Linked DNA regions of Homo sapiens. The protein of the gene in region 2 purifies or fractionates together with the protein of the main gene of each other region. This does not show direct contact. Each region holds a gene or a part of one and is shown on either strand. Other genes may lie near its edges.

Region 1 (3,815 bases), on a different chromosome or scaffold from region 2:
AGCACTTAGCACTTCTGATATGATCCACAGTCCCAGGACACACTCAGCACAAAGAAGGGGACTCCAGGACAGCAATTCTCTGCAGTACACAGGGACAGGATTTCCAGGGAAACATGTAGTTTAGGGAAAAAAATCATTGAGTTTTTTGCTTATCAACAGGGGACAGAGGTTTTTAAAAGGCTGAGCTAGGGCAGTGGTCCACAGCCAGCAGCAGCAGCACCACTTGGGACAAGAAATGAATATTCATTACACCACCCACCCCCACCCCAACCTGCTAAAGGAGCCACTCTGGGGTGGCAGTGGAGCGGGGGGGATCCACCGTCAACAAGCCCTCCAGGTGCTTTGGACGTAGGACAGCGTGAGAACCCCTGGTCTAAAGACCGCTGCTAGTCCCTCCCAGGCCTCTCTCAGCACGCAGCCTGCCCATGGGCCAAACTCAGCAACTACAGGGACTGAAAAAATTCCCCTCTGCCTTCTGACACCGACTTGTCAGACATTTCTAGAAGTCTCCCTCCTCCTCCTCTCCCCAGGTGACAGGCAGGCAACAGTGCCTGGGCTGCACTGCCAAAACCAGTCCCAGGAAGAGGGGAACTGAGACTCCCTCGTCTCCTCTCCTCTCCTAACTGAGGGGACAATTGGGAACTTATTAACTCCAGAGCTCTCTGCCTTGGAAATTTCCAGAGGAATTAGAAGCAGGCATGGGAATACCAAGCCTCCCCCAGCCTCACTCACCAGGTAGACGTCACAGAGGTTGTGAAGCCAGAAGTGGTGCAGGGCATGAGTGACGAGCGAGAGCTCTCGGGTGAGGAAGCCCCGCTCACACTCCTGGGCAGCCAGGGCAAGGCGGCTCAGGATCCAGGCATCCATCGGGGAGGAGGGAGACAGCTGCAGGCAGAGGGGGCAGGATGGCCTGACTCCCCCTCCCCTGCCTCCTTTCCTTCCAGATGCCACCTTGGCCCTCTGACACCTGACTACCCTACTCCCAAGCACCTCTGTTTTCTCTTACCTCCTCAGCAGGCTGTGGCACAAATTTCTCCCCTAAAGCATTGAGGATAAAGCGAAGAGCATTCCAGATCTTGTTGCAGAAATGTCGGCAGCTCTGGACCTCAGAGACTGACAGGTGCAAGTCGCCCGCTGGAAGGGAAGAATCGAGGTAGTCTGCATGTAGGTGGCAGCAGCACCAGAAGTCCTGCCCCTGCCCTGCCCCTGCACAGGTGCCCGCTGCCCTCTGCTCACCCCGACACCCCTCGCCCAGGCTTACCCTGAACTCCATGGGAGCAGAGTGTGAATCTCAGGGCATCTGTCCCACACTCAGGGATCCCGTGAGGAAAGTCCTTTTTCTGCAACCAGAGGAAGAAGAAGGGTGGCAGATGCCTTTGTGGCTGCAGGGCCAGGACCTGGGTTGCAGAGGAAGCCAGAGGTGGTGAGCTAGAGCTGGTGGGGGGCAGGCAGCGATGACTCACCTGTGCTGCAGCCACAATGGCCAGCTCTGCAGGGTCCAAATTTCCGCTTCTCAGCTTTTCCTGCAGCACCTGGGGATGGAAGGGGGCAATTCACGACCCAGGTCGAAGGCCCTGCCTCTATAAGGGTCACACCTGCTGGCCTCACTCCTCCCTCAGCCTGCCTTCCTCTCTCCTGCAAACCCTGCAAACCTTGTCCCTCTAGTGGGTGCTTCGTCCTCACCTGCATCTCCACCCCACTGATGATGTCTCTTGGGTCCAGCACATTCCCCAGGGACTTGCTCATCTTCCGGCCCTGCCTGTCCCGAACCATGGGATGAAGAAGCACCTGGGGGCAGGGAGGGGTCAACAGAGGGGGGTTTCCTTGGAGGTGCCTTGGGATCTCTGGCCTCCATACTTTTGGGGGTAGGGTAGGAAGTGAATTAGGAAAAAGGAATCAGCAACGTGGAAAGGACCACATTAGGGGTTAGAAGGGAGGACAAGGTTTGGGGAACACTGGAGTCACAGAAAGCGGCAGGGCACTGAAGGGCTCTTACCTTGCTGAAGGGCAGCTGCCCTGTGAGCTGGGTCCCCAACATGACCATGCGGCCCACCCAGAACAGCAGAAGGTCGCTGCCCGTTTCCAAAAGTGACAGGGGGTAGAAACGAGCAAGGTCTGGGGTCTAGGGGGAAGAGGAGCAGTAAGAGGCCCAGGCCCCAGGCCCCCCTCAAGCCTCTGTGGGGGCCCAGCCATCCCTTCCTTATCGTTTCCCCTTCACTTTCGCCCTCTCAACCCACCTCACCTCTTGGGGCCAGCCCAGGGCAGAAAAGGGGAACAGGGCAGAAGAAAACCATGTGTCTAGGACATCAGGATCTGGGAAACAGAAAAAGAATGGGGACAGTTGGAACCTTGGCTTCTAGGACCTCAGACCACTGCTGCCACCATTCTAGGCCAACCCCCACCCCCAGAGACCAGGGCTGTCCCCTTTGGCTCCATTCCCAACTTTCCTGACCCTACCTTCTGTATCTTGGGATCTGTTCCCCTCAAAGGCCCAGATGCCCAGGCCCCCGCTCCCCTGTACATCCCTCCCCAGCTCAGGCACTCACCCCTCTCCAGGGTCAGCTCTGCCCCTGGCCTCCCTGTCAGTTCCGCTGCTACCTCTCTGGCCTCAGCCTCTGACCGCCCAACCACCCAACAGTCCTCTTCTCCCTGCAAAAGTAGGAAGGGGTTGGGGAGAGTGAGGAAGAACAGCTGACAGGTGTAAATGTCACTTGGTTTTCACGTCCTCATGTGGTCTTAGAGTGGCCAGGTTCCCCCAGGGGTGAGATAAAGAAATGCCACTTCAGGGAGCCTTGATCGCGCAGAAGGTTACATGACTATGAGCATGAAGCACATGACCAGGCAGGAGCGGGACTTGGCCCTGCGGAGCTCTGACTCCTGGGCTAGGTGCTCTGTGCCACACTCGGCCCTCCGGGTGCTTCTTCCTACCCACCTGCGCATGGTCCTCTACAACCAGGTAGGCTGGAATCTGATGGCCCCACCACAGCTGCCGGGAGACACACCAGTCCCTGCCGGGAGGACATTCGTGAAGTCTTAGAATAACCAGTCAGTCCCCCCTCCCCATCTCCACAAGAGCTCCCCTTACCCTACCCTTACCCAATATGGGAAAACCAGTGCTGCCAGTTCTTCTGGTGGAAGGAGGGACTGAGCTCCAGGGCCCCCGACTCCACAGCCTGGAGAGAAAGGGGACTTTAGACAATGTTGCCCTTCCTGCACGGCCGCACCTCCACAGATAGGACGAGTGGCCTCTGAGGTCATTTTAAAACTCAGAAAGGACCTCCCAAGCCTCTTGCCAAGATTCTGGGCTTGAGTAAGGATATGAGCCAGCCCTTGCTGGGCCGCCCAGCCTCCATCCCACACATCCTCTCAGTTACCACAGCTGGAGAGGTCTTCAGGGCAGGAGGTCTCCTGCTTCCCATTTCTTCATTCCAATTCTCAGGGAGCTCCCCCAACCCCTGGCCCCAGTCCTTCCTACACTGCAGCCTCACCTTGGCAGCTCGGGCCCCCATTTCCTGGCAGCGGACAAACCACTGGTTCTTCAGCAGGTATTCTATCACATCCCCAGAACGGCTGAAAGAGAGACAGGGTGAGTCCACTGCTCTTCCGGCCCTGTGACTTCTCCCAGGGGCACAAGACCCCATGCCATGCCAGGCCCTTGGTACTGAGGATACAATAGCGAATAAAACCGACACGGAGCTCGTATTCTAACGGAGGGGTGCAGAGCCCATCCTATTGTCACCCTTAAGCTCCATACATTCCCTTTTGGGGTAGCCCTTAGTAAAGGAGTTAAAATGAGGTTACCTGCAGATGGGCAG
Region 2 (3,815 bases):
ATCAGTAGCCCAATTTTGGATCTGACACGTGTGTGATACCCAATAACTAACCAAATAGAGACGTCAAGTAGGCAGGCTGATATAGAAATCTGGAATTAAGGAGAGAGATCTGAGCTGGAGACATACATTTGGAAATCACTAGCATATACATAATAGAAAAAGTCACGAGGGGCCGGGTGCAGTGGCTCACACCTGTAATCCCAACACTTTGTGAGGCCAAGGCAGACAGATCACCTGAGATCAGGAGTTTGAGACCAGGCTGGCCAACATGGGGAAATGCTGTCTCTACTAAAAATACAAAAATTAGCCAGGCATGGTGGCACACACCTGTAATGCCAGCTACTCAGGAGGCTGAGGCAGGAGAATCACTTAAACCCAAGAGGCAGAAGTTGTAGTGAGCTGAGATCACACCACTGAACTCCAGCCTGGGGGACAGAGTCAAACTCCGTCTCAAAAAAAGAAAAAGAAAAAGTCAGGAGAAAGAAGATTGAGGACTGAGCCCTGGGAAACAACAATGTCCAAAAGGAGAAAGATGAGGAGGAGCAAGCAAAACAGACCATGATGAATGGACTAGAAATGCAGGAGGAAAAGCTTGAGGGAGTGAGGTCCTGAAAGCCAAGTGAAGACGCCGTTAGGGAGGAGACGCCCTCCACTGGCTCAAATATTGCTGACAGATTAAATAAAATGAGGTGTAAGAAAAAATGCATAATTTACAGAAAAAAATTGTGATAATCTTGAGGAAAAACAATGTTGGAGGACTGCTGAAATTGAAGACGCCGGTGTGAGATTAAGAGTGAATGAAAAGAAAATTTGAGTTCGTGAGTGTGGACAGTTCTTTTAAGGACATCATGCTTAGGAGTCATGACTGAGAATGTTGTAATTTTCTTCCACAGTCATGGAAAAGTAATAGACAAATAGTTTCAAGTTTTATATAACAGGTGTAGTTTTCAAATTTTATATAACAATAATATATTTTAAAGGTTATAAAAATTATACACATGTGGCATTAAAAATGCCAGACTGAGGTGTTAAATTCTTAAAACTATAGAACTAAAAGTCGCCTTGAACATTTCTAGATTACACATAAGCTGATTATCATTTTATTCATGCTTATGCATAAAGACCAAGAAATACTAAAAGTTTCAAGGAGAGTATTTCTTGCTTGATAAAATCAGCCAATTCTAGGACAACTGATACTCATCAAATATACAAAGTAATTGATCACAGCAAAATACTGGGTTCTATTAACAGGAATAAAGTGGGAGAAATGCAGACAATAATCTTATTTTATAAATGAAATTTTTAAAATTATATGAAGTCACTGTGGAAAAATATGGTGAGGTGAATACTGAAATATATCCTTTTCTCAAAGGAAGGATAATTTCACACACGCAGGGCACTTTTACAAATAAGAGTCACTTCACTTGCAGCACCTTCCTTTTAGCACAAGGGTCAGCAAATTAGCACCTTGGGCCAAATCCAGCCCACTGCCTGTTTTTGTAAGTCAAGTATTTTGGAACACAGCCATGCTTATTCACTTTACAGTCCATAGTGTCAATTAGCTGGGTGTGATGTTGCACACCTGTGGTCCCAACTAGTAGAGAGGCTGAGGTGGGAGGATCACTAGAGCTCAGAAAGTCAAGACTGCAGTGAGCCATGATCACACAACTGCACTCCAGCCTGGGAAACAGAGTGAGACCCTGTCTCAAAAATAAATTAATTTATATAGTCCACAAAGCCTAAAATATTTACTAACTGGCTCTTTGCAGAAAAAGCTGGCCAACTCCTGGTTTAGCAGATGAAAGATCCTTTGATATATTTTAATAAAAGTTTTACCCAATATACTGAAACGTTTATATTAAATACAGATCCCCATGTACAATCCCTTGGCAATATTCAGATTGAGGGTCCAATATTTCAGCACTCAGGCACTGACAATAAAAATTTAATAACTAGCAATCTTGTTGCTAACAAGGTACAGCGTCAATATAGCATGTAGCTTCCATTTGCAACACAGGAAATATTACAAGAATTTTAACAAGAACTCTTAAGATGTCATCACTGATGCTTTAAATACACTTTAATTGTGAAATAATCAGTATACTCTAGATCTAACCTCACTTGTAAAAAATGGTTGCATACTACATTAATTTCTGGGTATGAAAATTGAGCTATTTCCTATTGGTAATGATTTACTTTTGATAATGATAATTTCCTATTGATAAGGATCCATCTTTTTGATATAATAATGCTGTAATAAATGTCCTTATACATAAGTATATATGTAACAAATCTACACAAATATCCTTTACATATATTATATATCCTTATTGTTATACATGTGTTTGTGAATATGCTACTAAATTAATGTTCAAAATGTATTTACCAGCAGTGTATGAAATGTCTTTTACAATGAAACCATTTCTTTTGCAGCAACACAGATGGAGCTGGAGGCCATTATCCTAAGCAAACTAATGCAGGAACAGAAAATCAAATGCCACATATTCTTACTCATTAGTGGGAACTAAATAATGAGAACTCATGGACACAAAGAGGAGAATAACAGGCACCAGGGTCTACTTGAAGGTGGAGCGTCGCGGGAGGGAGATGACCAAAAAACTAACTTTTGGTGTTTTGCTTATTATGTGGCTGATGAAATAATCTGCCGTCCAAATCTCCATGATACACTTTACCTATATAATAACCCTGCACATGTACCCCTGAAACTAAAAGAAAAGTTCACTAAAAAGAAAAGAAAATGCCTTTTCCCTCACATTTGCCAATACTGGTTATTTTTCAAATAAATTAATGACTGGAAAAATGGTAACTCATTGTTCGCTGATTTTCATTTTTCTGATTAATGGGCAAGGCTGAATATCCTAGTAAAACTATAAAATTTGTTCATCATGAATATTAGCCCAAACTAGGGTTAGTTTGACAGCACATAGTTATCTCCTGTTCAATGTTGCCATAGGCTTACCTGTGATACTCTTCACTTTCGTTGTCAGGAAATTGCTGATTTTCAGGTGTTCTGCTCTTCCTTTGAGGAATTAATCCATCATCACCATTGCCAGCAGTGACACCATTACTCAGGTTTTCTAGTAATCCCACATTATTACTTTCATGCTTCTTCATTTCTTCTTCAACCTTGAGTGGGATATTAAGGATAGTTATCACTTTATTGAATAAAAAGAACCTTTTTAATTGATTCTATCAATTGACTCAGTTTGTCATTATTTTAGTCATTAAAAATATTTCACACTTAAATTTGATCATATATATAGAAATATTACCATATAACTTTAAGATGTAATTATCATCTCATTAATATATCACAGAAATTTTTGTAAAGTTTGCTTCATTTCTGTTTCAATGAATGAAACAGAATTTTCCAAAATTCAAAAAGGGCCCTCCTTCATTTTGTGCTTTTATTCTCAATCACTCTTCAGAATCTTATGTATGTATTTACCCCATTTGACTCATGGGAACACGCAAATAAAAAGACAAAGATGCAAAATGTGTCTTCTGTCTTTACCACCTAGATTTTACATTAAACAGTCAGATTTAGAGGATGACACACTGTGCGGCTTCAGGAATAGAAAGGAAGTTTGCCCTTTTCTGCGCTAAGATATTCTTCTCCCCCACTGCCTTTGAGCATTCTTTTTTCATTTGGTTGCTGAGATATCAAAAACATGATGGTGCTCACTGAAAATGGGAGCCAAAGTTTGCCAAAACACAAGAAGCAGAGTGAAACTGCTGACGTGCAAGCATGGAATTCCAGAAAATGAGATGCTCCCCAAATTTCACATTGAATA

Evidence for each region.
Region 1: the proteins of POTEJ (region 2) and VARS2 fractionate together in Homo sapiens (co-fractionation; one large-scale study listed by BioGRID). This does not show direct contact.

Annotation. Positions count from the first base shown.
Region 1 is NC_000006.12:30,920,423-30,924,237, reverse strand, and holds part of VARS2 (valine--tRNA ligase, mitochondrial isoform 2 precursor), read right to left. Parts: coding exon 3,802-3,815; intron 3,571-3,801; coding exon 3,489-3,570; intron 3,174-3,488; coding exon 3,097-3,173; intron 3,009-3,096; coding exon 2,933-3,008; intron 2,650-2,932; coding exon 2,547-2,649; intron 2,314-2,546; coding exon 2,243-2,313; intron 2,123-2,242; coding exon 1,997-2,122; intron 1,789-1,996; coding exon 1,684-1,788; intron 1,533-1,683; coding exon 1,464-1,532; intron 1,341-1,463; coding exon 1,262-1,340; intron 1,135-1,261; coding exon 1,007-1,134; intron 886-1,006; coding exon 733-885; intron 1-732. UniProt on the Homo sapiens protein: Catalyzes the attachment of valine to tRNA(Val) in a two-step reaction: valine is first activated by ATP to form Val-AMP and then transferred to the acceptor end of tRNA(Val).
Region 2 is NC_000002.12:130,631,822-130,635,636, reverse strand, and holds part of POTEJ (POTE ankyrin domain family member J), read right to left. Parts: intron 3,148-3,815; coding exon 2,981-3,147; intron 1-2,980.